6 separate regions of the Homo sapiens genome follow, and all the other regions are reported to be linked to region 4. Evidence: microRNA targets listed by miRTarBase, many of them from high-throughput screens and not tested one by one. Region 4 holds a microRNA gene; each other region holds the end of a gene's coding sequence.

The links. Region 4 holds the annotated microRNA hsa-miR-5088-3p (UCCCUUCUUCCUGGGCCCUCA, at 2,489-2,509, opposite strand). A microRNA usually pairs through its seed, bases 2 to 8, with sites in the 3' UTR of a target mRNA and lowers its output. Matches are read on the target gene's strand: a 7mer-m8 pairs with bases 2 to 8, a 7mer-A1 pairs with bases 2 to 7 and ends in A, and an 8mer does both.
Region 1: miRTarBase lists MED8 as a target of hsa-miR-5088-3p. Seed matches in the 3' UTR shown: 8mer at 1,413-1,420.
Region 2: the mRNA of USP49 is a reported target of hsa-miR-5088-3p. Seed matches in the 3' UTR shown: 7mer-m8 at 2,628-2,634, 7mer-A1 at 1,874-1,880 and 7mer-m8 at 140-146.
Region 3: the mRNA of GDF6 is a reported target of hsa-miR-5088-3p. Seed matches in the 3' UTR shown: 8mer at 3,286-3,293, 7mer-m8 at 3,074-3,080 and 7mer-A1 at 2,265-2,271.
Region 5: miRTarBase lists CD68 as a target of hsa-miR-5088-3p. Seed matches in the 3' UTR shown: 8mer at 846-853.
Region 6: the mRNA of KNTC1 is a reported target of hsa-miR-5088-3p. The part of its 3' UTR that is shown has no 7-base or 8-base seed match.

What each region holds. Positions count from the first base shown.
Region 1 is chr1:43,381,520-43,385,649 of GRCh38, reverse strand. It overlaps MED8 (mediator complex subunit 8), which reads left to right. Exons shown (of 7, transcript NM_201542.5): 7 at 544-1,733. The coding sequence ends at 608. MED8-AS1 (MED8 antisense RNA 1) reads right to left here and starts at 601. Exons shown (of 2, transcript XR_001738027.1): 1 at 509-601; 2 at 1-366.
Region 2 is chr6:41,793,201-41,797,200 of GRCh38, forward strand. USP49 (ubiquitin specific peptidase 49) reads right to left here. Exons shown (of 8, transcript NM_001286554.2): 8 at 1-3,523. The coding sequence ends at 3,333. Among named protein-coding and RNA genes, the nearest start is that of TOMM6, 7.5 kb to the left of the region's middle.
Region 3 is chr8:96,141,120-96,145,249 of GRCh38, forward strand. GDF6 (growth differentiation factor 6) reads right to left here. Exons shown (of 2, transcript NM_001001557.4): 2 at 1,214-4,130. The coding sequence ends at 3,444. Among named protein-coding and RNA genes, the nearest start is that of GDF6, 18 kb to the right of the region's middle.
Region 4 is chr19:49,680,683-49,684,682 of GRCh38, reverse strand. It overlaps MIR5088 (microRNA 5088), which reads right to left and starts at 2,566; the gene lies at 2,488-2,566. PRMT1 (protein arginine methyltransferase 1) reads right to left here. Exons shown (of 11, transcript NM_001536.6): 4 at 2,618-2,773; 5 at 2,424-2,487; 6 at 614-756. RefSeq lists silencers at 13-72, 3,757-3,921, 3,768-4,000.
Region 5 is chr17:7,581,128-7,585,257 of GRCh38, forward strand. CD68 (CD68 molecule) reads left to right here. Exons shown (of 6, transcript NM_001251.3): 6 at 251-984. The coding sequence ends at 384. MPDU1 (mannose-P-dolichol utilization defect 1) reads left to right here and starts at 2,725. Exons shown (of 7, transcript NM_004870.4): 1 at 2,725-2,838. The coding sequence starts at 2,736. It overlaps MPDU1-AS1 (MPDU1 antisense RNA 1), which reads right to left and starts at 2,965. Exons shown (of 2, transcript NR_136402.2): 1 at 2,791-2,965; 2 at 847-1,036. RefSeq lists enhancers at 1,549-2,422, 2,374-2,423, 2,423-3,297, 2,534-3,063, 3,298-4,130.
Region 6 is chr12:122,625,974-122,630,081 of GRCh38, forward strand. KNTC1 (kinetochore associated 1) reads left to right here. Exons shown (of 64, transcript NM_014708.6): 64 at 232-423. The coding sequence ends at 255. Among named protein-coding and RNA genes, the nearest start is that of MIR9902-1, 68 kb to the right of the region's middle.

The sequences.
Region 1 (4,130 bases), not on the chromosome of region 4:
TCAGATCTTAAGACCATTTGGTAGGTGCATCAGGAATTGACACGCAGGCCAGTTTTCCAGTCCTACATGTATTCTTTTCTCTGTATCCTGCCTCTCTTGCTCTTGGCTTCCTGCCTTCTCTCCTACTCATTTTTAGAACAGTCTAGATGCAGGCAGCTAGAAGAGTTATTTCCTCCAAGCTGTCTAGGAAAAGGGACAATTAAAGAGAGATTCTGCACTTATTATGATATAAAAAAAGAAAAACAATGAGAGAACATAGTACTCTTTTACCTGTGACGTTAAATGGGAGTCACACAGGTTTAGCTATCTGTTCTAGGAGTGGATGAACAGACTATTCTCCCATGTCACTTCTTTCCTCCTGGACACCTTCAGGGAGACAGCTGGGTGAAGAATCATACTTCTGACCTCTGTCAAACAGGGTCAGATGCCGCAGAGGTTCTGAGATGATAAAGGAAGTGACAGAGGGAACCTGAGGTACCACATTTCTGATTTGTCATGAAAGTCTTACCTTGCTTAAGATGACTTTTTTAATGTTCCTTTCAGGGAAAATGCCAAGTGGAATAAAAACCAACATCAAGTCGGCTTCCATGCATCCCTACCAGCGGTGAGTGTGGCTGGCAACCTCGACTCCCTGGTGCTCTTTGCAGAGTTGGGCAGTGAAATTACCTTTTGCTCAAGGCTCACCTAGATGGGTACAATAAAAAGAACATGGGCTTTCAGCAGCAGACAAATCCCACTTCCACCACTGACTAGCTGTGTGACCTTGGACAAGTGACCTAATTTTTCTGAGCCTGTTTCTCATTTGTAAATGGTGATAATACCTACCTCATAGGGTTGTTGTGAGGATTAAAATGAGGAAATGAATGTAAAGCACTTAGTACAGTATATGAAATAATGGGTATTCAATAAATGATAGTTTCTACAGATCCTTCTCCCCACCACCCTCCACAGTCCTTGATCCAGAACTTACCCTAATCTGATACTGCCTCACGTCAATGGTGAGCTGATGGACACAAGATCAAATAAGGCTATGCTTATTTTGTGCTGCCAGAAACTGTAGCAACCTCTGTGTTCTTAGAGGCACACTGTTTTTGCAGGCCCTCCTGCCTGGGTTTCATTCTGGCTATCCCTCTAAGGCGCAAGGTGAAGAAGCTTCTGGGCCAGGAAGGAAAAAAAAATGCCCACCTGCAGCTCTGGTGAAGCTTGGGCCTGCTCTCCTTTCCATCCTCTAAGGAGCCAACTTGGCTTTTACCTGTCAAATAGTCATAAAGTCCCCTATCCTTTACCCCACCTTATACACACGAGGCTTTCTCAGGAAGTGGCTCTGCCAGGCAGGACTATGTGGGAAAGGGTTTTTCCTTAGCACACGAAAAAGCCCCTTCCCCTGGATTCATGTTTCTTATTTTGGAGGGAGAAGGGAATTGCACTTCACACTGCCATCAGGGTTTAGTTGACCTCATAATGGTGCCCACTTTCTCGACTTTGGCCAGGATTTCCTTCAAAGAAAACGACTTTCCTTCATTTCCCTAAGCCTGTGGCCCAAATGGTGGACCAGAATGATGGTGGGAGGGGGCAACCCCCAGTAGCTTTGCCTGCTTTTATAAAGTTGAACAAATTGAATTTAGACATTCAGGCTAACCTGCCTTTCTTAGTACTCCTTTGTTGGCATGGGCAGGGGTTGAGTCAGCAGAAGTGGACCAAAGGATTCCTCTGAATAAAGTTATTTAAATTGATGTTCACTGGCTCAGGGTTGTCTGACAGTAATTTATGAGAGCACTACATAGGGATCAGAGGGGCAGTTTCAAGAGTGCTGCAAGGCAGTTCTAATTTGTTCTCCATAAAAAAGTTTCCGTATCTTTAATTAGCTTTGATCTAAAAATCCTGAAACTTCCCTCCTGCTCATACCTTCCAGCTGCCTTTTTTCTGTTCTGTCACACACTGGTACTTTGGCATTTGTTCAGTGCCAAACAAAGTTCTGCCAGGCTGTGGCAGCAAAGGACTGGAAAAGTGGTCCCAGATGTCACATCTGTTACCATTCCATCAAGGTGAGGAATGGTATCCACAAAGCTCACTGACCACAATACATAGCAGTAGGGGAGTCTGGTCACCAGCTCTAAGGCAATGCCAGACCTTTCCCCCACTTAAACTGTTCCGGCTCATCAGCCCACTCAGGTGTTATCTTCTCACCTCTTCCCTTCCCACTGGAAATGTCAGTATTAACTGGCATATTGGGTAGAGTTTGAGCTGTGCTTCTCTGAAATTCCTGGAGCATCTTTTGGTGACTATTGTCCTTTACTCCACCAAAAGATTCCCTCCTATTGAATGGCACCAACCCCAAGTTTTTTTGTGTCCCAGGCAAATACTGACTTCATCCCCACCATACTATTAAAATGGATTCCTTGTCATCCAAGAATGGAAATATCCTCTTGCCCCAACAGGAACATATGCAGGATGTCACCTACATCTTGTTCCCCTAAGCAAACACTCCTTCCTCTAGAGGGACTCCTCTACATTCATCACCGTAGGAGCACATGCTGTCGTTTTTATCCCCCATCCTCAAATCATCTGGAGTACACAAATCTCAGTAGTGTCTCCCACTTTGGGGTCCATACAGCCTATTAAATGCCTCAATAGAGAGTATGTATCTCCCACCCCTAACATACTCATTCCCTCAGGAGGGAATACATATACAGTTTTCCTTTGAAGAAGGGGACATGACCTATTTACTGGCTCAGATTTAGGATTTGCAAAAGGTGACTATTGGCCTACTCTGGTAACATTCCTCTGTTTTTGACTGTCCTGTTTTGCTTGGAGATCGTGCTTTCTCCTATTCTTGGGTCCCCTGGAGAAAGAGATTAGGCCATTGTCTCCTAGGTTTGTGTCTAGGATGGAGAAAGAAGCAGCAGCTGTGAAACGTCAAGAGCTTACTACAGGACAGAGTTCATCCTGCTGAAGGCGGAAGCTTATCCAATCAATGTCAGCATAAGGCCCATTGCCTAGGATCTCTCCCTCTCCAGCTCTGCCCTGAGCCTGGGATTCAGTCATTGCTGAACCTCTCTTTTGCTCATTGTGCCAGTCACCCCATTCTGTTCCCCTTCTGGTGTTTATTGCTGCCCTACTTAGCTGGTGTACCTCATTCAACCCTGTCGTTTTTTGGGAAACAGCCAAGATAGATAGGTTGTAGCCAAGTGCTCCTTAGAACTCCATAATGGGTCCCAGCATTAGGATTGAGCTGGAGGGGGTGTAATTGCCCACCTCCTGTTGTGCTGCCACAGAGAAGAAGCTGAACTCTGCAGGAATGCCCCAGTGCAAGGCTGGTCCCTTTTCCCACCCCCCTCTCACCTCCCCCAGGCAGCTGGAAACAACCTCTCCCTTTGTCTGAGCTTCTTGTACAGAATAATCCTCCTTATGGACAATGTATTCTCTGTGCCCTGTGGACACAGGAGCTGTGTAAGCTGATCCCAGCACCAGGCAGGACGGAGGCTGAGTCCTTCCAAACGCCCACCCTGGGTCAGCTCCTGATTACTGTCCAGATGAACTACGAAGGAGTGTACATTCTCTTCCATCTGCCTTTCCTATCTGCTCCAGAATTAGGGGAATAGCCTACTGAAGTTTAGCATTGGGCCAGGAGTAGGAACAGGGGATGTGGTCCTTTTCTGTTCAGTCTTGAGGGTTCACAGTGCCTGCTTATGGAGGCTCGATGTGGCTCTTGCCTGGAAACCTCAAACACATGGGGACTAACCCTTGGAAAGGGCTTGCCACTGTGCAGATGGGGCTTTATGATTGGAACAGAAGGCAAACTCCAACGCATCTGATGGGACCATGGTGCCCCATCACTTCAGCATGTGTTTTGTCCCACAAGACAAAGTTCCTTTCTTCTTCCCTTTAACTTCTCTTTTTTTTTGAGCTCCATGTGTCACTGAGGCAGCTCTTGGGTTCCTGTTGTGGTCTCTCAATGAGTCACATGCCATTTGGACATGGCAGCTTCCCTAAGTACATCGTGGACAAGGCATCTCACTTCCCTAAGCCTCAGTTTTCTCACTTGGTGATCCCAGTGATCCTTTTTAGGTCTAAAGTCTGTGGCAATGATTTTCAAACCCATTTATCCCCAGGCATTTTGTTTTGTTTTG
Region 2 (4,000 bases), not on the chromosome of region 4:
TTCCAATTTTATTCATGACATTTTAAGAGACATCTGGAAATTCTTTTTTTTTTTTTGTTTTTGTTTTTGTTTTTTTTTTAAGACAGAGTCTCGCTCTGTCGCCAGGCTGGAGTGCAGTGGCACGATCTCGGCTCACTGCCCCTTCTGCCTCCTGGGTTCCAGCGATTCTCCTGCCTCAGCCTCCCAAGTAGCTGGGACTACAGGCACGTGCCACCATGCCCAGCTAATTTTTGTATTTTTAGTAGAGACGGAGTTTCACCATGTTGGCCAGGATGATCTCAATCTCTTGACCTTGTGATCCGCCCTCCTCGGCCTCCCAAAGTGCTGGGATTACAGGCATGAGCCACCGCGCCCAGCCTGGAAATTCTTTACAGTGTAGCACTGCCCCCCAACCCTGCCCCATAACTCCGAGACTGAGGGGCTGGATCAAAGCTGGCAAGAGCTCTGTCCACCATTTAATAAGAGCTTCAGTTCTGCCAAGGGCATTCCTAACTATTTTTATACTAGCATGGATGTTCGTCTCAGAGGCAACCACAGATATGAGGGTCAGGCTAGATTGAGGTAAAAAAAAATCCTTTTTGAGGGCCTAGGTGCACTCATCTTGGCTGGCTACAGCAGCAAGTAAACATGCCAGCCAACTAACTACAAAGGGTTCCTGGAATGAGACTCTTAACTACTTGCCCTGGGAGAGAAGCAGGCCCATTAAGGTTCGGTTAGGAGACCTTGGGTTTGATTTGGCAGCATCTAGTCAGTTTTTACCTGGTTCTTATTTTCTTCTCTTTAGAATGATTCAATTTCAGATGCAACTGAGACATTCATCTATACCCAGTACGTAAATAAATTAAAGGCAAAGGGACATTTCCCTCACAATAGCCATTGGCTTATGCAGCAGGGAACTCTTCTTTAATAAAAATCTCCTTAAATACTAACGTCCTAAGTGTCCAGTGCTGCCGCCTCTGGGTACCTGAGGTGTCTGTAACTGCAGTGGGCACCTTTCACAAATGTGTAGCTCAGTGGAGACTCTGATGTTAGTTTCTTTTATTACTTTGATATATGCGTGCTCAGCTAAGTTAAGCACTTATTTCACAAAGTCCTTAATCTGCTTAATAAATCCTTATAATATTTGGTATAAAACTATTTTTAAAAATTAAATTGGAAGATCTTTGAATTTTCCATTAAATGTTTATTAATAATTATCCCCACTGGACAGCCTGAGGGGTAAAGTAGATGCTCTATTAGTTCTTCTCTATCTTGTAAGTTCTTTTTTTCTAGAATAATAAATATAGGATTCAATGAAAGATGAGGCACGATTCATAGTTTCCTTTCCTTTTTACTCTCCTTGGTTTTTTTGAGTTAATGGGCTTTTCTATTGCCACAAAAAGTCATTACTAATCATGCCGACTTAAAAACGTGGATCTTGAGAGTACAGCTTCACATCAGAGCCTCTGGCAGCATGGACAGCGGTGACACTTTAAAACAGTGTCCAGGAGAGGGTGAGCCCAGGCAAAGCTTATACAAAGAAGCCTGCAGTAGACAATATAAACCAAACAGCATAAAAAATGCCATACGCTATCGCTTCCAAATAAAAGCTAAATATTACAGAAACCTCACAGTGTTGGAAAAAGCAAGTTTAATTTAAAATATAGTCACTCCTTCCCTATCAGGGTGAGCCATTTTTTGTCTGAATTTCCTCCATGTCTCAGTGCTGCCTGGCAGGGCCTATGGGAGAGTTCATCTCAAAAGAGGTCAACAGCAAATGCTACAGATCTGTGTGGGAAATGTGGCTCATCAACATTGCTAAAGCTATAACCCTCATTCTTTAGCCTGGCTTTCCCCACTTCCCACTCCTCCCCGAACGCCCTTCCACATCTACTCCCTTCAAGTGACAACTGTACTTCTACCTGAATTCAAACATTAATATGATATACTCAGTCAAAAGATGAGCATTCATAGTGACAGGTTGAGTGAGGCTCACTGCAGTGACCACAGCAACAAAAGTTAGGGTTTGCATTCACTTTCACCAGCAAATCTAAGTGAAGAACTAAGAATGAAGTGGTGCCTGATGGGGACAAGGGTTTTTATCTGGGCAATTTCATTCTGTTTAGAAACTGACCCAATTTAAAAAGGAAGATGTATTTTACTAGCACTGGGGGAAAGGACGGGGCACTCTTGTTTTTTTCTCTGATGGACTGAGTATGGGGGGTAAAGCAACAGTAGGGATTATCAGATTTGGGAGGAAACAGGTCAAGGCCATTGGTAATCAACTCTTCAGATATGTACGAGGTGGACTCCTAAGCAGTTAACATACCCTAGAGAACCAAAAGCTCCCAAACCCTGTGAACATGAATGTTCTAGCTCTCCAGGAGCAAGAAAGAAGCTGCAGGCTAAGAAGCTGCATGCCGCACTGAAGTGAGAACGGGTGACAGGCCTTCAATAAGCCCTGGAGCATCAGCTATCTCTGCCCACCCTCAATTGAGTTCTGAGAAAACCTAAGAATCAATTTAAACCAAACCATGTGCTTGCCCTAGACCTGAACCAGGGATCTGCTACAGAACTGAGATAGCCAGGAGTGTCCTTTGGCTCAGCATGGAACATGTGCTAGTCTATTGCTTCTTTATATGACCTGCCCCTTCTTTAGAATGAAGGGGTATTCATGCCAGTCTCAGAAGTATGGAATGATTATATGACAGCAGCAAGTAGGGAGGGTATGACATATGAAAACCATCCCACTTTGCATGGGGAAATTTGTTCCATGCATCTCACTCCACTCTTCAGCTGCTATCCCCAAAAAAGGAAGTTTGTTTTAAACCCTTGAAGGTTACTTCCTTTGTGGGAATAAACCCTTTAGACTTCATCTCCCATCTTGGAGCCAATCCCATCCAGCAAACTGCTAGCCCAGGGCCCCTCCTCACGTGCTCTGTCCAGGACTGCTCACATCCGGAGGGTTCTTCTGGTGCTGCAAGGAGGTCCTGATTAGCAGGGGAATCACATCATGGAGAGAAAACATGGCTGCTCTCCTGTGTGGATATGATTGATTTACCCCCCCGCCCCGCTTTCCTCCACCCAGATCCCTCTATATTCAGAAGCAACTGATGAAAGGATCTTCATAGAAGTTACTTCTTTTGTTTTTAGGAAAGGAGGGAACTCCCAAACTCATTCAAAAGAAAGAGACTATAAAATTTACGACAGGACACGAATCACCTGGCACCTTCTACTCTAGACCCAGCAAGGCAAACCTAGTAATCTGTTCCTGCAGTAGCCTTATTTCCTATAAGAGGAAAGATGTATGGACACCAATACACAAAAGCCAGTCTTTGATACATGCCTCCCATTCAGGAAAATGTCTGTGGTCTGCCTTCATCATTGTTGCTGGACTGCACCTGAGCTTGGAGATGGGTTTCTGAGATTCTTGCATTGCCCTGCACTGTTCTTTGAGTGTAAAAAAGGATGTAGGCCTGGGTTTTGCACACTTCCTCGACACTGCATACATTCAGCTTTGAGTCATTGCAGTGGACCCAAAAACCTAGGAAACCAAAGGAGAAAAAGAGAGAAAATGACTACCCAATTCATATTTTAGTCAGCAGGCAAAATCAGGAGATGAAGAAAGGGACAGAGAAGTTCTGAATAGAGCCAACCCTCGATTATTGGTGGGGAAGGGACAGGTAAATGAAACTGACAGACTTTTGTGTATCCACTGGCTTTAACCCCACCAAGCCCCACGGTACTGCTTATCGACTGACTGCAATTTTTTTTTTTTTTTTTTTTTTGAGACAGAGTCTCGCTCTGTCACCCAGGCTGGAGTGCAGTGGTGGGTTCTCGGCTCACTGCAAGCTCCACCTCCCAGGTTCACGCCATTCTCCTGCCATTCTCCTGCCTCAGCCTCTCGAGTAGCTGGGACTACAGGTGCCCACCACCACGCCCGGCTAATTCTTTGTATTTTTAGTAGAGACGGGGCTTCACCATGTTAGCCAGGATGGTCTCGACCTCCTGACCTCGTGAT
Region 3 (4,130 bases), not on the chromosome of region 4:
AGGTGATTACATCCTCTCAAAACTCAGAAGTCAAAATTGCTTTGTTAAAAAGCTCCATTTGGGTAAATAAAGTTTCTGCAAAATGACCTGGAAACTCAAACAATCACCGTGTCCACGGGAAAGTGTTTCTTAGTTCTAAGGGTCCACTTGCAACCAGTTTTTTGAAACATGACCTATTTGTAAATTGACTATTGTGTTGATAACCAAAACTCATAAAAATCACACCCAGGGCAGTCCCAGCAAAGAGTAGAGAGCCAAAGCCCAGTAATGGCTTAAACTGTAAGTTTACTGGGCCAAGCCCAAAGCTAAGAATTCAAGGAGTTTTGCAACCCATACCCATTTTTCAGCTGCCCTTATGCCAGCAGTTACAATTCACACACTCCAAAACTTCAGGCAATGCTGCTGGCCTCTGTACCATTTCCTCCTCCGCCAGCTGACCAACCCTAAGGATTGTAGCTAACTGCACATTCCCCACGTCAATATTTAGGGACCAATCAGAGAGCAGGTAGATGATCTGGGGACAGAATTGTACAGTGGTTAACTCCTCAGGCTCTAGAGTCTGAATGAACTAATTTTAAATCCTAACTACAATTCCCTGGCTGGATGCCCACAGGCAGGTTACTTAAATTCTCTGCACCTTGGTTTCCTCATTTGTAAAATGGGGATTATAATAATATCTACCTCTGAGGGTTTTAAATGAGATTCTACATGTGTAGAATAACATCATGCCTGATAGAGTGAGTGCTCACATTCACACATGAGTTCCCCAATTCACAGCAAGCACAGAAAAACATTTGTATCTTCTGCTTCCAGTATGCCACAAAGGTAATGAGTAATTACACTGACATCTTGGTTGACTTAGGTAACCACTTTCTTACCTCAACATTACTGCTTTGTTTTTTTCAACATTAAAGCAACTAAGAAATAATCCAATTTCTATTTGGATTCCTGAAGTGCTGGGATGAGGGACAGGCTTATAAACACTGGTCTAATAGGTGACAAGGATTTGGCTTTATTCTAGTAATAAAAATGTCATGAAAAAGGAGTTATTGAAGAGTTATGAAGAAAAAGTGTAATGCTCTAAATGATAGATTTTTAAAATCATCAGTTTGTTTTCAGGCATTGAGTCCCAAACTGGAACAAACTACCTCTGACAATAATTCTGTGAGAAAAGGATTTTTCTAAATCGATCCATATAAACCAGGCTGAGTTATTAAGGAGAAAAATGCGTTTAATAATATAGCATTCGATTGCATATCATCCAGGAAAGGTGTACTGTAAAAAATGTTTTGATTATTCATTGACCTCTGGTAACTTTAGCGTTGTAAATACTTGTATTATATGAGGTAGACAGTTTAAAAAAAACTCTCCATTAGACAGACTTAAAATTTTGTAATAATATTTAAGAAAATGGTAACATTATGAAAAAATGAAATATCTGATTAATGCTTAACTTTGTACAACTCGAATATAAACTTTAAAAATATTAGAAATTATAACATTTGAGTGCATATAACGTTTTGTACATTAGGATGAATTGCATGCTGTCCATTTCCTCTTTGCACTTTCAGTCACCTTAAATAAACAAATATATACAGCCTTAACAGAACAACAGTGCATCCAAAGCAAATGTGCATTTTAAATTATTTCTCCTGGCCAAGTCTTTTTTTCACTTAGCATTTTTATATTAGCATTTCTTATCATCCCCACCCTTTCTTTGACAGTTTGTAGTTCTCTGAACCAAACAAGCAACAGGTTTAGATTGGAAGAGAGCAAAATCACTTAGGAAAAACTAAAACTTTTTAAAAGGCTGGTACAAATTCCATTGATTAAACAATTTTATAGTCAAAGATGAGGAGGAAGCTAACTCTTCAAAGGGCCTACTCATGGGCAATGTTTGAAAACAATACTGGTGCAGGCTGGGGGAAAGTTCATGTTTTTGACTATCTGGGAATGGGTATTTCAATTTCACTGTGCTCTCTCCAGCTTCCTCCCAGAAGACGAATTCCACCCCTGTCTCCTTCCTCACTGCCTGTTCCCCATCTCCCACCCCAAGCTCAATGTAACACTTGGCTCTTTTCACAGTTTCTCATTACTAAGTTTTAAAAACATTGCCTAACTGATAATTACAATCTGAACCAATTCTTTTGGGGGAGCCCTGGGCTATTGCTGGCTGGTAATCTTTCAGGAATGTCAAAGAGAGGGGAGGGAACTCAGATTTTAAAGAAACTTCAGAGACAGGGACTTGTGTCCCCTTTCATCCCTCCCTTCCCCACTCCTGGCTCCTGGCCTGTCCCTTGATCCCCATCCTCCCTGAGGCCCACCATCTTCCCTCCTGATGGGACTCCTTCTACTTCTTGGTTCCTTTTCCCTCCTTTGTAGCTCTTACGTTAATTGTTTTGTTCCCCACTCCTGCCCATTTTTTTGAACTGGAAAATCACCTTCCCCTTAGAAGTGCATGTCTGAATTTTGGCAAATTCTGTTGAAAGAAATCAATTAGAATCAGAAAGGGCATTTGGGTGGGCTACCTCCAGCCTGGGCTAATGCACCTCCGTGTCAGCCCCAGTCAGAGGCAGGCCTTGTGGTTTCTCATTATCCTTCAAGGGGTTCCATTTGGACTAATTCTTGTCATTCCATCCATACCAGCTCCCCTTGCCCCCACCAGAAAAAGCAACAATGAAGGCAGAGACCTGGGCCCTCAGGAGTGAGATGAAGGTTGCCAGTTCCTGGTACCGAAAGAGGCCAGGGCAGAGCTGGTAAACTCACAGAGTACACAAATGGGTGAGAGGGGCACCCGTGGGCCCACCTCTCTCAAAGCTCTTCTATAGGCAGGACCATTCCTGACTTAACTATTCTTTTTGCCAATTTCCCTATCTAACACTTTCTGTGTGGGAGGGCACAAGACATGGGCTATGACATGGCCAGAGACCCCACCTTCTTTACACATGTAAAAACCAACCAAATCAAGATGCGTCAACGGTGATTCTTCCTCCCACATTGTTTCCCTTTTTAAACTGTTATTTTTTCAATCCATGGAGCAGTTGAGAAACGGGTATGCATCTCTCCTCCCCTCCCCTTCTATCAAAGCCTGTAAGACACATAAGGAAATCCAAAGCCACAGTAATAGAGAGAGAGAGAGAGAGAGAGAGAGAGAGAGAGAGAGAGAGAGAGAAAACAGAACAAAAGAAATCCTCCTTGGCTTGTTTTTCCAGGGTGGCCAGGCAAGGTGTGAAAATCCATATTTCCCTCTGGGCTGGCAGGTAGAAGTTACTGGGAAGGCTGCGCTCCCTTCTCTCCCACCGGCTCTCACATCCAGGCTGTTCCCTCACCCTCAGCCTCCCCCAGCGCCAGCTTCCTCCTCCGCCTCTCTGCAGCCAGGCCTCCCCTGCAAGGCGGACCTTGGCCCACCTTGGTTCCGGGCCAAGGCGGCGGGAAAGGCACCGCTACCTGCAGCCGCACGACTCCACCACCATGTCCTCGTACTGCTTGTAGACCACATTATTGCCCGCGTCGATGTATAGAATGCTGATGGGAGTCAATTTGGTGGGCACGCAGCAGCTGGGCGGGGTGGAGCCGGGGTCCATGGAGTTCATCAGCGTCTGGATGATGGCGTGGTTGGTGGGCTCCAGGTGCGAGCGCAGCGGGAAGTCGCATACACCCTCGCAGTGATAGGCCTCGTACTCCAGGGGCGCGATAATCCAGTCGTCCCAGCCCAGCTCCTTGAAGTTCACGTGCAGGGGCTTCTTGCTGCAGCGTAGCCTGGACTTCTTGCCGTGCCGCTTGCCATGGCGACTGGCGAAGGCCGTGCGCCGCCGCCGGCGGCCGGGCGAGGGCAGCCAAGGCCTGGCATCCGGGGCGCCCGACGGCGGCGGCCACGACCCCTCGGCGCCCGCGCCCGGGCCCGCAGCCTCGGCCGAGCCCAGCTGCTCGCGCATCTCTGCGAACAGGTTCTTGCGCTGGGATCTGGTGAATACCACCAGCAGGGCCCGCTCCTGGGGAGGCCGCACCCTCCGGCCGAAGCCCAGACTCCGCAGGTCCGGGGGCGGCGGTTGCTGGGGTCCCCGCGCGCGCGCCTCGGCCTCCCCGGCGTCCAGCTCGCCCCATGCGGCCCGCAGCTCCAAGCACAGCTG
Region 4 (4,000 bases):
TGGCCTCCTGCCCTGGTCTGGGCCACCCTCATGTCGCAGCGGCACTCACCCCTCGCCCCCTGGTCTATTTCCCACACGGCCGCCAGAGGGCACCCAGGGGCACCCCAGTCAGCTCCCGGCCCTTGGAGGTTCTGGGGATCCTCAGACCCTCCCTAGCTGCTCTGAGAGGAAAAGCACGGGGTCCCATAAGCCTCCACAAAATCTGCACACGCCCTGTCACCCCTCACCTCCACTCCTCCTCCTGCTGCCGTTCTAGACCCTCCTTCCACACGGGCCTCCCTGCTGTTCCACACGCAGCAAGGGCACACCTGCCCTGGCTGCCCCTCCGTATGCTTCATCCACCTCTCCGTCACCTCACCTCTCCCGGGGAGGCCTGCTGGGGCCTAAGGACCTGGGCTATTGCGCCGCTACGGATTTCCTGTTCCTACGACCTCCCCCACATCGCACCATCTCCCTCCAGGGTCTGTCACACCTGGCTTGGGCTGTGGCTTTCTAACACCTTGCAGCTAAGCCCCCACAGTAAGTCCCGTCTGTGGGAAAAATTGAGCGTGGTTTTCGTCTTCTACCTGGACCCCAGCCCACGCGAGCTGCACCCGTCCCGCTGGGGCCTCACCAGCCACTTGTCCCGGGCATAGAGCACGGTGTTGAGCATGGACTCGTAGAAGAGGCAGTAGCCCATCCACTCGCTGATGATGATGTCCACCTTCTCCACTGGGAGCTCCACCTCCTCCACCTTCCCCTTGATGATGGTCACCACTGCGGGCGGACAAGGGTGGCCACGTCAGCCCCCGGGAGGCCTGCCCCTCACCTCACCTCCCCCGGGGGCTAGAGCCTGGGGACCCCACTTCAGTTCAGAGAACTGCGTGAGCAGAAGCCATGAACCCTTCTAACAGTTTTAAAATTCATACATCGTTCTGGACATTTTTGAGGCAGGAGCAGAAATTTTATGTGGACTGGGTATCAGGTGATGTTACTTTTTTTTTTTTTTTTTTTTTGAGACGGAGTCTTGCTCTGTCACCCAGGCTGGAGTGCAGTGGCGTGATCTCAGCTCACTGCAACCTCCGCCTCCCGGGTTCACGCCATTCTCCTGCTTCAGCCTCCCGAGTAGCTGGGACTACAGGTGCCAGCCACCAAGTCCGGCTAATTTTTTGTATTTTTAGTAGAGACAGGGTGTCACCGTGTTGGCCAGGATGGTCTTGATCTCCTGACCTCACGATCCGCCCGCCTCGGCCTCCCAAAATGTTGGGATTACAGGCGTGAGCCACTGTGCCCGGCCGCGATTTTGTTTTTAACTGGGTGGTTTTGATATAATAAGTAACAGCATGATCACATTCTCAAAACAGCCTTTATCTATTAGATAAGACACAAGCAGACGCATTTACCGGGAAAATTACATCACAGTGGGAATTTGCTTCAAATGGACTCGTGCGTTCATTATAATAATCTCTTTTTAAAAATCACTTCAGGATGGCACGGTGGCTCACGCCTGTAATCTCAGCACTTTGGGAGGCCAAAGTGGATGGATCACCTGAGGTCAGGAGTTCAAGACCAGCCTGGCCAACATGGTGAAACCATGTCTCAACTAAAAAAATACAAAAAAAAAAAAAGTTCACACCTGTAATCCCAGCACTTTGGGAGGCCAAGGCAAGCAGGCAGATCACGAGGTCAGGAGATCGAGACCATCCTGGCTAACACGGTGAAACCCCGTCTCTACTAAAAAAACAAAAAAATTAGCCGGGCGTGGTGGCTGGCGCCTGTAATCCCAGCTAATTGGGAGGCTGAGGCAGGAGAATCACTTGAACCCAGGAGGCGGAGCTTGCAGTGAGCTGAGATCGTGCCACTGCCCTCCAGCCTGGCAAAAGAGTGAGACTCCATCTCAAAAAAAAAAAAAAAAAAAAAAAAATGCTGGGGATGTACCTATGATGGTGGTCATGCAAAAGAGCGGATGCCGCAACATCCTGGAAAGTGTTAAACGACATGACAAGCAGGTGTAAGAAGCCAAGGGCAAGAGGCTGGTATGAAATGCTACTGGCGTGAAAATTATGCACGAGAATGTAAATGCATTTACGTATGTATGTGTTTGTAGGTCCAGACTTCTCTGGAAGTTAGTGTTGGTTAAACTCAGAGGAGGGCAGCTGGGAAACAGGGAAGGCTTCTCACTGTGGGCCTTCCGTGGCCAACCACGTGACTCTATTACTCATTCAAGAAACTAGAGAGTGCTTCTTGCCCTAATTTTAAGACTGCGGTGCTAAGCCTGTGATTTTGACACTCAGATTCTCAGGCGGCCGGCAGCCCAAAAGACCATGGGTTGGGAGCTGCTGAATCTGTGGTCATCTGTAGACCCCACTGCTCTTCAGAGGGCCCTGGGGAAGCAGGGCATCACCCCCTCCACTCCCACAAACCCATCCTCTTTCTGGGCTCACCGTGGTCTAACTTGTTGGCTTTGACGATCTTCACCGCATAATCAGAGATACTGGAACACTCGATCTGAGGGCCCAGGAAGAAGGGAGGGTGAGACCCATCCCCTGCCCCCATCACCTCCATCCAATCCCTGAGCCCTGATGGGCTCCCCTCCATCCCTCAGGCCCGGCCCCGCCTGGCCACCCTGGAGACTCACCCCGATGACCTTGCGGGCCCCGGCCTTGGCAGCAAACATGCAGAGGATGCCGGTGCCCGAGCCGACGTCCAGCACCACCTTGTCCTTGAAGAGGTGCCGGTTATGAAACATGGAGTTGCGGTAAGTGAGGGTGCGCACCTCGTCCTTCAGCATCTCCTAGGGCAAGAATGGCACAGAGACGCCGTGAGGGGCCCCATATCCCCAGCTGGAGAACAGCGTGTCCTGAGAGCTCGGAGGGCCAGAGCTCGGCCCTCTCGCTTTCTTCCATGCACCTCAGTTTCCCTTTTATATTTATTCATTTATTTATTTTTATTTTATTTTATTTTTTGAGATGGAATCTCACTCTGTTGCCCAGGCTGGAGTGCAATGGTGCAATCTCAGCTCACTGCAACCTCCGCCTCCTGGGTTCAAGTGATTCTCCTGCCTCAGCCTCCCAAGTAGCTGAGATTATAGGTGCACACCACCATGCCCGGCTAATTTTTGTATTTTTCATACAGATGGGGTTTCACCATATTGCCCAGGTTGGTCTTCAACTCCTGACCTCAGGTGATCCACCCACCTCAGCCCCCTAAAGTGCTGGGATTACAGGCGTGAACCACTGCGCCCAGCCAGTTTCCCTTTTTAAAAAATCAGATTAGATGGTCTAAACTCCAATCTTGGCCGGACTTCACCACTGCTACCTAAGAACCAGTGAACCCTGGCTTTTAAAAGTCCTCAGGCTGGGAGCGGTGGCTCACGCCTGTAATCCCAGCACCTCAGGAGGCCAAAGCCGGAGGATCACTTGATCCCAAGAGTTTGAGACCAGCCTGGGCAACAAGGCAAGATTATCTCTACAGAAAAATAAGAACATCAGCTGGGCGTGGTGGCGCGCGCCTGTGGTCCCAGCTACTCCGAAAGTGGAAGTGGGGGGATCACCTGAGCCGGGGAGGTCGAGGCTGCAGTGAGCCATGATTGCACCAATGCACTCTAGCCTGGGCGACAGAGCGAGACCGTCTCTAAAAATAAAAAATGGCAATTTTATGCATATTTTGCCACAATTTTATGAAAAAGGCCTCAGGGGGAAAAGAAAATTCCTTAGAATGCCACCCCAGCTTCGTTCTGGGATTTCAGTGTCTTCAGTCAGATCTGAAGTGTGCAGAAGCTGTTAGGGCGGGAGCAGCCGGGGCGCAGTCCCACCGCCGGTCACTAGAGGGCGGCAGAGACCAGTGGGCCCTGCCCGACCTCTGGCTAAGGCCCCAGGCACGCATGCGCTCTCCCACCCCAGCCTTCGGCGCGAGGCCCCTGCAGAGATTCAGGCTAACCTCGGTCTCCAAGGCAACGGCTTGGCGAGGCGACCCTAGGAAGTGCGCAGCAGAGGGGCAGGGGGGCGGCCTGCGGCCAGGG
Region 5 (4,130 bases), not on the chromosome of region 4:
AGGCCCATAAGCCACTCATCTCTCTTCTTAACCCCCCAAATCTCGCTCTCCCAGCTTGTCATGGCTACAGGGCAGCTTTCTTTCCATCCTCTACAAGACTCTGCCAGTTTCCCCCTTTTATCACTGCTGAGTCACTGCGGTGAGCTCCTCACCAATCTCCTACTCCCCAGCATCCCCCCATTCCCTCCTCCCACCTTTATCCCAACCAGCACGTCACTGCAAATACCTACCTGCCCTATCCTTCCGCCAGGTTTCTCCTGCCCCAGTGACCGGTCCATCTTGCTGCCTCTCATCATCGGCCTGATCCTTCTTGGCCTCCTCGCCCTGGTGCTTATTGCTTTCTGCATCATCCGGAGACGCCCATCCGCCTACCAGGCCCTCTGAGCATTTGCTTCAAACCCCAGGGCACTGAGGGGGTTGGGGTGTGGTGGGGGGGTACCCTTATTTCCTCGACACGCAACTGGCTCAAAGACAATGTTATTTTCCTTCCCTTTCTTGAAGAACAAAAAGAAAGCCGGGCATGACGGCTCATGCCTGTAATCCCAGCACTTTGGGAGGCTGAGGCAGGTGGATCACTGGAGGTCAGGAGTTTGAGACCAGCCTGGCCAACATGGTGAAACCCTGTCTCTACTAAAAATACAATTAGCCAGGTGTGGCGGCGTAATCCCAGCTGGCCTGTAATCCCAGCTACTTGGGAGGCTGAGGCAGAACTGCTTGAACCCAGGAGGTGGAGGTTGCAGTGAGCCGTCATCGCGCCACTAAGCCAAGATCGCGCCACTGCACTCCAGCCTGGGCGACAGAGCCAGACTGTCTCAAATAAATAAATATGAGATAATGCAGTCGGGAGAAGGGAGGGAGAGAATTTTATTAAATGTGACGAACTGCCCCCCCCCCCCCCCCAGCAGGAGAGCAGCAAAATTTATGCAAATCTTTGACGGGGTTTTCCTTGTCCTGCCAGGATTAAAAGCCATGAGTTTCTTGTCACATGCCTTTCTATGCCTTCCATGGCTGGGTCTCAGGGAGCCGGAAGCAGCTGCTGAGGAGGGATGAAAATGTCAGTGTGTGACGATGCCTCATGGGTTCACCCCCCAAAGCCTGGCACAGCTGGTGTTGGGTCTGCCGTGCCTCCCTTCCTTCCTCCTCTTGGGGCCACTGGCTGCTCCAGTTCCCCATCCGTGGCAAGCCGGTAGAGCCATTCATCCCCGCAGCCTTCTTCCTGACCCTCGTACAGTTTCAAATGCAGCAGACAGCCAAAGCAATGAGTGGGGGGCTGTGGAACTTCATTCCCAAAGGCAGCGCCAGTGGCTCCTGAGCAATGAGAATGTCCTGTCCTGTCCACCATATTCAAGGCCAGCAGAAGAGCCCGATTAAACCCTCGCAGCACCTGGCATGCTCCTATCCCACCTACAAGGGGTTGAATCAAGAAGGAGCAGTGGGTACTCTGACCTCCACTGGGGGCTCCTGGGAACAGCATGCCCCCCACACGGGGCCACCTGCCAAGCCTAACTTCATGCCCCCAGTACTTGAGATGAGGAGTGTCACTCTCAGGACAGCCAAGGTCCAGATTCCAGAAAGGACCTCCCAGATGGCCACAGCCTGCACCAGCAGTGAGCGCCAGTCCCACCCATTACAGCTGGCTACGGCGCAATCCCTGGGAGCCAGGATGAGCAGCACCCCCCAGCCGTAGGAGCCCCAGGAGGCTTCCGGCCTCCAAGGCCCAGAGACTGCCCCACAAGGGCAGCCCTCACCTGGCAGGGCCCCAGCAGCCCCACCTCTGCCTGCAGACATCCGTGTGACCTTGTAGACTTTGGAGGGGGGCCGCCAAAGGGCTGATCCACAGCGGAATGACGCACGGGTGGGCACCGTGGGTTGGCGTCCCGGCGGTCGGTAACGAAGCACAACGCCCCCACCAGGTAGTCCAAGGTGCCCTTTCCCAAGCAGCGCTGCAGGGTCCACTCGGCCTCGCCGAAGTCTCTGCCCAGCACGTGGTGCGCCCTCGGGCCAGCGGGGAGGGGGCGAATCCCGGGACTGCCTCGCCAGGCCTCGGCTCCCCGGAGACTCTTGGGGGTCTGGGCCCCAAGGGTGATTCAGGTGCTGCCCTTCCCCGACCTGGGCTCGCCTCCCCCACCTCCTCCTCTGCTTCACTGTCCCGGGCCCAGCAGTTGCCGGCGCACTCATGCTCCGAGGCCTGAGCCAACCGGAGGCGAGACAAGCACAGGGCCCTGCGCGCAACCCGGCACCTAAGGAGGCCTGCCCGGTGCAGACTCTCCTGCTCCCACCGGCGCCCTTCCCTCTAGAGACGCTGAGAGAACGGGAGCTAGTAGCGCCCCCACCCAACGCCACCTCGGAGACTCCGGCTCCTTCTCTCTCAACTTCGAACAATACAAAGTGTGCTAGGAGAAGACAAGATGGCGCCCAGCAGGAGGAGCGGAGAAAGGCAGGGGTGTAAATCTGGCTTCCAAACTGGAAGCGTCAACAAAGGCGTGGGAGGTCTAACCGCGCAGGCGTGCAGCTTCGGCAAGCTTTACAATTCCAACAGCGCGTCCAAAACGTGGTCCCTGACTGAGACTTATTTTACGCCACTAGAGTGAGGGTGGGTAGCGTCAGAAAGAGCGGGGCACGGGGCGGGCCAGCTTCGCCGCGGGAAAAGAACGGGAGGCGGAGTGTCCGCAGCGCGCACGCGCAACGAAAGTCAATGGCGGTCTGGAGAGACTGGCGGAAGCTAGCTTTGCAATATGGCGGCCGAGGCGGACGGACCGCTTAAACGGCTGCTCGTGCCGATTCTTTTACCTGAGAAATGCTACGACCAACTTTTCGTTCAGTGGGACTTGCTTCACGGTGAGTTTTATTCAGCATCCGATCCAAGTCCTACTCGAGTGACCGTGGGCCCTTAGTCCAAGCCTTGATCGGCGACTAAGTGACGGCAGTGACTGCCGCCATGCCGAGCTGGACGGAAGTCACTTCTGAGAAGGGCGGAAGTGTCTCGGGCTCCTTAGAGGGAGGACACCATATTAGTGCCAGTGGGGAAGTCACCGGGTGGAATTACTTCTTTGTGGAGTTTGTGCTGTAGCGACAATGAAAAACGAAGAGTCAACTTTTATAAAACAAAATAAAAATTAAGTCAAATCATGCCAACCTTTATTAGATCGCTAGCAGGGTTAAACTTAATTCAAAGCCCCTGATGAATCGGGCCTTCATTGCACCCCCAAAGGCTCCGCCACCCTGATTGCTTTCTTTCCAGCCTCCAGGTTTGCTCATAGTCTGATTTCGGAATAATTTGCCTCCCTTCCTTTTTCTGATTGCGAGACAGCTCCACAAGGGTCACCGTCAGACCGTTTGGGGAGCGTCAGTCTGCCCCTGTCAGTTCATGGTACCTCTCTTGAGCTCGTGGGGCACTTTGTTTTAGCCGCATTCATGACCCGTGAGAGTCAGACTCCCACTAGACCAAGTTCCTTGAGGGGAAGGCTTCAAGGCTAGAGAAGTTGTGGATGGCCAGGGCATAAAAGCAAGCCTTGAAAGGGTAAGGTTTAGTCCCTGAGTAGGGGCCAGGGACAGTCAGAGTGTTCAAGAAAGAGTGGTATGGGGCGGGCACGGTGGCTCACGCCTGTAATCCCAGCACTTTGGGAGGCCGAAGCGGGTGGATCACCTGAGGTCAGGCGTTCGAGACCAGCCTGGCCAATAGGGCGAAACCCCGCCTCTACTAAAAATACAAAAAATTAGCCGGGCGTTGTGGCAGGCGCCTGTAATCCCAGCTACTCGGGAGGCTGAGGCAGGAGAATCGCTTAAACCCGGGAGACAGAGGTTACAGTGAGCCAAGATCGTGCCATTGCACTCCAGCCTGGGCAACAAGAGTGAAACTCCGTCTCAAAATTAAAATAAGAAAAAAAAAATGGTATGAAGACTTGTCTTTGGAGAGAGAAGACATGTGAAATGGGGCACCCATTGGCCCAGAGAAGGGAAATAAAGGATCAGAGAGCTCTTGGGCATTTCTCAGCTTTATATGGGGAAGCAATGGAGAGCCGTGGAGGTCAAGCCAAGTTTGGGTGTTAATTTATAGGGAATGGAAGATTGGATGTGGGGGGTGGTAGGCATCGGAGAAAAGCTGTTTTGGAAAGTAACAGTCTGGGGCC
Region 6 (4,108 bases), not on the chromosome of region 4:
GGTGGTTGTGCTCAATGCCATAAGATTACTTTTTTTTTCAGAAGGGGAGAGTATTGATTCGGGAGATAAATTTGTGGCGTTTAAAATCTGTTTCTCTCTAATCTAAAATGCCAAATAGTTTGATATGTAGATTTGTATCACTTCACTTAAGTTCTGTAGTTTATCTGACCATTTTCAATTTGAAAAACTAAGTGACTTATAAAAATCACTTCTGTGTTTCTTCCCATTTAGATGTTTCTTAGTGGATTATCGTAAATCACTGAACCTTTTTTTCAAGAAGGACAAGAATTTTGGAGTCTGCTATTAATGGACCATATTTATTACAGTTTTTAAATTGTACAATCTCTGTATTATAGCTATTTGTCTAACATTACCCCACATGTAATAAATAAAACAATATGAGCATAATTGCCCCATAAAGAACTCATGTCCTGAATTAATAAGTCTTTTCATTGCCAGTCACTTGTGCAATTTATAGAGACTATCAACTTTTTTGCACCATATATGAAGGAAACAAAGTGCAAAAAGTTTGCTCTCTCCCTTAAGAAAATTGAGTGCTTATAGCCTATGTCTTCCATATAAAAAAGTAAGAATATCAGTCTTTTTAATGTTATTCTAAGAAAATATTGGTATAATTTTAGTGGCAGAGTTTATCAGTCAGAAAAATAAAAGCCACTCTAGATATGCCAAGCAGAGAAGAATTTCATGCCAGGGATTGGCTATAAAGTTCTTCAAAAGACTGAAAGAACAGAAGGGAGGTAGAAGCGGGAGCCAGACAAAAGGGAAGAAGGGCTTTGCAGCCACAGATCAGGAGCTGCTCCGGCCCTTGGCTTGGAGCCCCGAGCCCACATTTGCCACTGAGCTGTCGGAGCTGCTGTGGCCACTGCAGTGCTCAGAAGCCCAGGAGTCTCTTTGCCAGTGCTGCTGACAACTTAACACTGCTGCTGTCCAGGCTGCCAAGCCCACCACCAAAAGAAGAAACATCTCTGCACTTTCTCCAAGCTTCTAATTTTTACCCCAGTGCCAAGAAATAGCAGAACCAAACTGGAAGCCACCTGGCTAGAAGTCTGGGAGGAGTGGTCCGCAACTGTAAACCCCCAGCACTGCAGCCGGTGGCCTAGAAAGGCGTGTGGAGCAAAAAGCCAGCACACAGAAGTGTTAATTACACCTGTTATTCTGACTTTGTAGTCCTTTGCCATACTTGCGAATAACTTAAGTGAATTTGATGTTACTGGAATTAGTTTGCCTTTATTTTGCCAGTTGAAAAAAAAGATTTCTAAAAAACTCAATGAAACATGATTCAACACAGGTTTCGAAGTAAAATAAGTCTGGATTTGAGTTCTAGTTCTATCACTTACTAGCTGTGTGGGCCTGAACAAGTTATTTAATTTCCCACAGAGAGAAACAGGGTGGTGTTGCTGTCACCCAGGCTGGAGTGTAGTGTTATGACCATAGCTCACTGCAACCCTGAACCCCTGTGCTTAAGGGATCCTCCTGCTTCAGCCTCCCGAGTATCTGGGACTACAGGCACACACCACCATGCTTTCCTGATTTTTAAATTTTTTTGTAGAGATAAGGTCTTGCTTTCTTGCCCAGGCTGGTCTTGAACTCTAGGCCTCAAGTAATCCTCCCACCTTGGCCTCCCTAAGTACTGGTATGACAGGCATGAGCCACCTTGCTTGGCCCAATTTCTCACCATCTTAATTCCCTCAAACTGAGGACAGTAAAAGTATCTACCTTCTAGTGGCAGGAGGTTTGAATCAGTTCGTATAAAGCATCTAGGCCAGGCACGGTGGCTCACGCCTATAATCCCAGCACTTTGGGAGACCATGGTGGGCAGATCATGAGGTCTGGAGATCGAGACCATCCTGGCTAACATGGTGAAACCCCATCTCTCCTAAAAATACAAAAAATTAGCCAGGCGTGGTGATGCATGCCTGTAATCCCAGCTTCTCAGGGGGCTGAGGTGGGAGAATCACTTGAACCCAGCAGGCAGAGGTTGCAGTGAGCAGAGATCATGCCACTGCACTCCAGCCTGGATGATAGGGCAAGGGCAAGACTCTGTCTAAAAAGAAAAAAAAAAAAAAAATGCGTCTAGCACAGTACCCGAGTGCCAAAAATGCTAGTTATTACGAGTATATAGGCTTCTATTTAGCTAATTGCAAGTTTTTAAATTGCAGTTTCAATAATAAAATTATTTTACACTTTGAAGGTGTTATACTGTTTCTCCACAATAATTAGTTTAAAAATGCAAGTTACTTAATTTGCAATGATATTTTAATGACGTTTGACCTATATTTAAAACATTGTCCAATAACTATTTACATAGGTCTTAGACAGACTTCTAAAGATCATATCATAACAAATAAGAATAGTTGGGCTGGCCGGGCATGGTGGCTCACTCCTGTAATCCCAGCACTTTGGGAGGCTGAGGCAGGTGGATCACCTGAGGTCAGGAGTTCGAGACCAGCCTGGCCAACATGGTGAAACCCCGTCTCTACTAAAAGTACAAAAAATAGCCAGGTGTGGTGGCAGGCACCTGTAATCCCAGCTACTTGGGAGGCTGAGGCAGGAGAATTGCTTGAACCCAGGAGGTGGATGCTTCAGTGAGCCAAGATCAAGCCACTATACTCCAGCCTGGGCAACAGAGTGAGACTCCATCTCAAAAAAAAAAAAAAAATAGCTGGGCTGGGCATGGTGGCTCATACCTGTAATCCCAGCACTTAGGGAGGACTAAGTTAGCGGATTGCTTAAGCCCAGGAGTTCGAGACCAGACTGGGCAACATAGTGAAACCTTGTCTCTACTAAAAACTAAAAAACAACAACAAAAAAATTGACCTGGCATGGTGGTGTGCGCCTGAAGTCACAGCTACTTGGGAGGCTGAAGTGGGAGGATGGCTTGAGGCCAGGAGGCAGAGATTGCAGTGAGCCAAGATTGTGCCACTGCACTCCAGCCTGGGTGACAGTGAACCCCTGTCTCAAAATAAAAATAATAATACAAATAAATACACCATAGAAAAAAATACAAAGGGCTTTTTTCCTCCCCACTAGAGATGGAGTCTTGCTCTATCACCCAGGCTGGAGTGCAGTGAAGCAATCATAGCTCACTGCAGCCTCAAACTCCTGAGCTCAAGCAATCCTGTTGCCTCAGCCTCTTGAGTAGCTGGGACCATACAGGTGCATGTCACCACACTCAGCCAATTTTTTTTTTTTTTTTTGTAGAGCTAGGACCTTGGTATGCTGCCCAGGCTGGTCTCAAACTCCTGGCCTCAGGCAATCTTCCTGAGTTGCTGGGATTAGAGATGTGAACCACTGTGCATGGCCCAAAGGGCTTTGGAACATGTGAAAAGAAAACCTCCCTAATGCTAATAAAAATGCAAATTAAAACTACCTTAGATTCCATTTTTTACTTGCCAGAATGGCAAAAATTAAAGTTTGATAACTGGACAAAATTATCAGAAAATTTATTCTCATATCTTGGTGGAAATTTAAATTTGTATAAGTTCTTTGGAGGACAATTTGACAATCTCTTCAAAATTACAAATATGCATACCTTTTGACCCAACTATTCCACTTCTAGGAACACACACTTGTAAGTTACTCACTATGCCATTATTCTCGGAGGAAACGTTTGGAAACAACCAAAGTACTCATCAGGAGGGGAATGTAGGCCTGGCATGATGGCTCACACCTGTTACCATAGGACTTTGGGAGGCCAAGGTGGAAGGATCACTTGAGGCCAGGAGTTTGAAACCAGTCTGGACAACATAGTAAGACCTCATCTCTACAAAGAAAAAAATTTTTTTAAAGAAGGGAATGGGCTAACTGCATGTGGCCATATACAGAATGAGGAAGTACTCAGTCCTTCTATACAAGTTTCTGGACAGACTGGCATCCTTTATTAGCCCCCCTAAAATGTGTTGGAAGACAAAATTTAGATAATGGAAGTACCTGCCTTGATTGATTGACTTAATGTAGACGGAGTCTCACTATGTTGCCCAAGCTGGCCTTGAACTCCTGAGCTCAAGCAGTCCTCCCACCTCAGCCTCCTGAGTAGCTGTCTATGATTTTATTTTTATTTATTTATTTACATATCATTTATTTATTT